Linked DNA regions of Homo sapiens: region 1 is linked to region 2. Evidence: fine-mapped expression QTL. A gene starts in region 2. The other region holds a variant in brackets. All regions are shown on one strand. Distances are between the middles of the regions. Region 1 overlaps SNTB2 (syntrophin beta 2). Region 2 holds the start of COG8 (component of oligomeric golgi complex 8).

Evidence for each region. PIP is the estimated chance that this variant, and not a neighbour inherited with it, causes the effect.
Region 1: its variant is the best candidate, but not a certain one, in a credible set for the expression of COG8 in whole blood (TOPMed, PIP 0.52).

The regions. Positions count from the first base shown.
Region 1 is chr16:69,297,575-69,300,594 of GRCh38, forward strand. It overlaps SNTB2 (syntrophin beta 2), which reads left to right. Exons shown (of 7, transcript NM_006750.4): 6 at 2,016-2,200. Among named protein-coding and RNA genes, the nearest start is that of VPS4A, 12 kb to the right of the region's middle. The variant A/C (reference allele first, on the strand shown) is at 1,393.
Region 2 is chr16:69,338,370-69,340,944 of GRCh38, forward strand. It overlaps COG8 (component of oligomeric golgi complex 8), which reads right to left and starts at 1,195. Exons shown (of 6, transcript NM_032382.5): 1 at 807-1,195. The coding sequence starts at 1,183. It overlaps NIP7 (nucleolar pre-rRNA processing protein NIP7), which reads left to right and starts at 1,403. Exons shown (of 5, transcript NM_016101.5): 1 at 1,403-1,516; 2 at 1,637-1,723; 3 at 1,825-1,963. The coding sequence starts at 1,461. RefSeq lists silencers at 872-921, 932-981 and enhancers at 1,402-1,521, 1,702-1,781.

The sequences.
Region 1 (3,020 bases), 41 kb before region 2:
GCCACTGCACCAGCCTGGGAGACAGAGCGAGACTCTGTCTCCAAAAAAAAAAAGAAGCCATGTGCAATGGCTCACGCCTATAATCCCCACACTTTGGGAGGCCGAGGTGGATGGATCCCTTGCAGTCAGGAGTTCAAGACCAACCTGGCCAACGTGGTGAAACCCTGTCTCTACTAAAAATGCAAAAAAATTAGCCGGGCGTGGTGGTGTACATCTGTAATCCCAGCTACTCAGCAGGCTGAGGCAGAAGAATTGCTTGAGCCCAGGAGGGTGAGGTTGCAATGAACCGAGATCACGCCACTGCACCCCAGCCTGGGTGACAGAAGGAGATTCCATCTCAAAACAAACAAAAAAAAGAATCTCTAAATCTCTCTTTTTAAAATTGTTTAGACATTGCTCTGTCACCCAGGCTAGAGTGCAGTGGCATGATCATAGCTCACTGCAGCCTTGAACTCCTGGACGCAAGTGATCCTCCCACCCCAGCCTCCTGAGTAGCTGGGACTATAGGCACACACCACCATGCCCAGATACATTTTTTATTTTTATAGAAATGAGATCTTGCCATGTTACCCAGGCTGTTCTCTAGCGCCTGGCCTCAAGTGATCCTCCTGCCTCCTGCCTTAGCCTCCCAGAGTGCTGGGATTGTAAGCATGACCCACCACACCTGGGGCATTTGCCAGTCTTGATGACCAAAATTGTTTGTATCCTGTCAATTCAGAGGTGTCCTTTGAATTGTATCTTTGATAGCGTTGACTGTGACTTTTGCTGAGTATAGCCTTTAACTTTGATGAACATAATCTTTATCTTCATCCCAAATGCCAACCAAACCATGTCACGGCTCCTGAAAGGCCTCTCTGCCTTTGCTCCTTTGGTTGGTCCTTCTTGCCCAGTTCAGTCCTTCTGCCTCTTCCTCCCTGCCTGTCCAGTTTTACCAATTCTTTTTTTTTTTTTTTTTTTTTTTTTTGAGACAGTGTCTCGCTCTTGTCACCCAGGCTGGAGTGCAGTGGCGTGATTTCATCTCACTGCAACCTCTGCCTCCCAGGTGCAAGCAGTTATCCTGCCTCAGCCTCCCAAGTAGCTGGGATTACAGGCATGTGCCACCATGGCTGGCTAATTTTTGTATTTTTAGTAGAGACGGGGTTTCGCCATGTTGGCCAGGCTAGTCTCTAACTCCTGACCTCAAGTGATCCGCCCACCTCGACCTCCCAAAGTGCTGGGATTACAGGTGTGAGCCACCGTACCCGGCCAGTATTACCAATTCTTTAGGGCCTATCTGAAGGCCCATCTCCTCCAGGAAACCTTTTCTTGACTTTGGCCTCATTCACTTTGGTGTTTGCTCATGTTCTGTACATTCTGCCTTACACAATTGGGGATTTCCTGTCTATGCCAATG[A/C]GTTTACAAAGTCCTTGAGAGCAGGGACTGTGCCTCTTACTTCTCTAGTGCCTTGCACAGCCTACACACACTTGCCAGTATGAGTGTTCAGTGGGTACTCGAGGAATTAAATCGAACAGATGTCAAGGAGTGTTATGGTCATTTCTGCCTCATCTCAGTGACCAAAACAAAACACACTTCTTTTTTTTTTTTTTTTGAGACAGTCTTGCTCTGTCGCCCAGGGTGGAGTGCAGTGGTGCAATCTTGGCTCACTGCAACGTCCGCCTCCCGGGTGCAAGCAATTCTCCTGCCTCAGCCTCCTGAGTAGCTGGGATTACAGGCACCCGCCACCACACCCAGCTAATTTTTATATTTTTAGTAGAGACGGGGTTTCACCATGTTGGTCAGGCTGGTCTCAAACCCCTGACTTTGCGATCCGCCTGCCTCGGCCTCCCAAAGTGCTGGGATTACAGGCGTGAGCCACCACGCCTAGCACAAAACACACTTTAGAAGTTTCCATACAGGTTAGGTATCACACATTCTCAAGAAAATATTTTTCCTATTTTGAAGTCAGAAGATTCCCTTTTCACTTGATAACTGACATAGCAACTTTACAACTAATGTTTTTTGCTTTTCTTCAACAGGCTGCATGTTAAATGGCCAAGAGGTGAGGCTTACTATTCACTATGAAAATGGGTTCACCATCTCAAGGGAAAATGGAGGCTCCAGCAGCATATTGTACCGCTACCCCTTTGAAAGGCTGAAGATGTCTGCTGATGATGGCATCCGAAATCTATACTTGGATTTTGGTGGTCCCGAGGGAGAACTGGTAAGAGTGTTTCTGAAACACATGTTTATCTAATAGATGTTCTCTTTCCTTCTCATTACTTCTTACCCCTTATATACAAAGTCATGGACTGACATTCCATTTAGAACCATGAAATTTTAAATTAAAAAAAATTTTTTTAAAGATGGGGTCTCTGTCACCCAGGCTGGAGTGTAGTGGTGCAATCATAGCTTCCTGCAGCCTATACCTTCTGGGCTCAAGTGATCCTCCCACCTCAGCCTCCTGAGTAACTGGGACTGGACTATAGGTGTGTGCCACCATGCCTGGCCAATTTTTTATATTCTTTATAGAGATGAGGTCTCGCTTTGCTGCCCAGGATGGTCTTGAACTCCTGGCTTCAAGTGATCTTCCCATCTTGGCCTCCCAAGGTGTTGAGATTACAGGTGTGAGCCACTGTATCTGCTCTTCTTCAGTTTTCAAGATGGCATTGGGTGTTGGTTTTTGTTGCCGTCATTTTTCTTTTTTTTTTCTTTTTTGAGACGGAGTCTCGCTTTGTCGCCCAGGCTGGAGTGCAGTGGCACCATCTCAGCTCACTGCAACCTCTGCCTCCCTGGTTCAAGCAATTCTGCTGCCTCAGCCTCCCGAGTAGCTGAGATTACATGCACGTGCCACCATGCCTGGCTAATTTTTCGTATTTTTAGTAGAGATGGGGTTTCACCGTGTTAGCCAGGATGGTCCCAATCTCCTGACCTCATGATCTGCCCGCCTCAGCCTCCCAAAGTGCTGGGATTATGGGCGTGAGCCACCGTGCCTGGCCTTAGATTTTAAATCCTCTACTATTTAGTTCTTCCTACCAGGCATG
Region 2 (2,575 bases):
GGAGAGACTTTTTGATATCTGATGCCCTCAAATGCGAGGATTTCCTTGTCACCTTCCCGTCAATGGAAGTTTTGAAGCAGATGACCTCCGGTCCACGCTTTCGTATAAAATAAGTATATAAATGTGCACATATATTCAGCTCACACCTATAATGTTAACTGTGTCAGACCCGATAATAAGAGCTTTGCATGAATCCTTTTTCTTTGTGCCCACAACTGCCCTTCGAGGGAGGGACGTGCTTCTGGGTAACCAGTTCTGAATTCGAAACCTCCTAGCTGTGTCCTTGGACGTCACTAATCTCTGTCTTGACTTGCTCATATGTAAAATGGAAATAACAGGGCTGGGCGCAGTGGATTATGCCTGTAATCCCAGCGCTTTGGGAGGCCGAGGCGGACAGATCACGACATCAAAAGATCGAGACCATCCCAGCCAACATGCTGAAACCCCGTCTCTACTAAAAATCCAAAAAAATTAGCTGGGCGTGGTGGCGCGCGCCTATGGTCCCTGCTACTCAGGAGGCTGAGGCAGGAGAATCGCTTGAACCCAGGAGGCAGAGGTAGGTTGCAGCGAGCCGAGATCTCGCCACTGCACTCCAGCCTGGCGACAGGGCGAGACTCCGTCTCAAAAAAGATAAAAAAGGAATAACAGTACCTATCTCGAAGGCTGTTGTGAGGTTTAAATGGATTAATAAAGCGCTCAGCAGAGAACCTGGAACGTGGTAAACGCTTTATGTGTTAGTTATTTCTACCATCGTAAATGTCAGCTTTTACAGTTATAAAACCCCTTTAGCGCCAGGCGCGTCGCACCTGCAGCTCTGCTGGAAGCTGGGCAAACGGTCGAGCAGGCGGCCGAGCGACGCCTCCACGTCGCCAAACAGGCGGTGGATGCGCTCGGTGCACTCGGCGCCGCGGATGAAGGTCTTGTAGTTAGCGAAGGCCAAGTCGCGCGTCTGCTGCAGCAGCTGCGCCCGCTCCTCCGCCAGGCGCTCGGGCTCGCGCCGCAGCCGCTCCAGCCCCGAGCCGCTCAACTCCCGGAGGTAGCGGCCCACATCGGGCCGCTCGCGCCACTGGGCCTCGGGGAAGCGGTCCCGGAACAGCGACGCCAGGAGCCCTTCATCCTCCACCTCGCCGAGAGCCGCTGCTGTGGCCGTGGCTACCGATGGGATAGTCGCCGCGGTCGCCATCTTCCCAGCAACAACGTCACTTCCCTTCCGGACCACAAGGGGCGCTGACTCCGAACTTAGGACAGGAAGAAACAGGCACATTTCCGGTCTCTATGCTTTCTCATCCGGCCGGCTTGCTTTCCCCTGCGGTCGTCCAGACTATTGGGCGCTAGCGAGACGAACTATTGGTACGGGGCTAGAGAGGAAGGCTTTGGGATTGCCGGGGAGCAGCGAGCGACCGACTTCCGTTTCCAGTTACCAAGGCACGAGGATCCGGTGTTCCAACCCAGGGGGAAAAATGCGGCCTTTGACTGAAGAGGAGACCCGTGTCATGTTTGAGAAGATAGCGAAATAGTAGGAGCGCGCGGGGCGGACGCGGGAGTGTGTGGGTGTGGTGGCCAAGGGTGGAGTGGGGGCGCGGTGCCGGAGACCGGTTCGTTCGGGCGCGGTCTCCAGTCCTCTTTTTGCCCTCAGCATTGGGGAGAATCTTCAACTGCTGGTGGACCGGCCCGATGGCACCTACTGTTTCCGTCTGCACAACGACCGGGTGTACTATGTGAGGTGAGGCGGGGCCGGGCAGGCAGCATGGACCCAGGGGAGAGGGGTCCTGGGTCCCACGAGCCTCCTTCATCCGCAACCTTGCTCCCCCTTTACCCTTTTAGTGAGAAGATTATGAAGCTGGCCGCCAATATTTCCGGGGACAAGCTGGTGTCGCTGGGGACCTGCTTTGGAAAATTCACTAAAACCCACAAGTTTCGGTTGCACGTCACAGCTCTGGATTACCTTGCACCTTATGCCAAGGTTTGTGGGGCGGTTTCCAATTCTGCCACGGGCGATGAAGTCAAGGATTAGGCAGATTGTCCGGCAGCTTCTCTCCCACAGAGTCCCTGACAGTGTGCTTGGAGGAGTTTCAGCACATGGAGATGTGTAGAGGTCTTGCAGCTTGAGCATGGTCAGGGCTATGGGATAGGAATGCTATGTGGCTGCGTAGGGTTAGTTTTCTCCAGCGAAGTAGAAGAGCCTAGGGAGACCCAGCTAGAGATCAGAAAGCAAATAAGTGGCAGCAATGAAGACACCGGGGTCCAGAAAAAGAGCTGTTAACCTGGCCATGGAGGATGATCCTTGTAGAGTTGAGAAAATAACTTTTTCTATTTTTTTCTTTTTCTTTCTTGCTCTGTTTTTTCTTTTCATTTCTCTTTCTCTTTCTTCCTGACACAGTTTCACTCTGTCGCCCAGGCTAGAGTGCAGTGGTGCGATCTCACTGCAGCCTCCACTTTCCAGTTTCCAGTGATTCTTGTGCCTCAGTAGCTGGGATTACAGGCATGTGCCACCACACCTGGCTGATTTTTTTGTGTGTTTTTAGTAGAGACAGTGTTTCACTGTGTTGGCCAGGCTGGTCTCGAACTCCTGGCC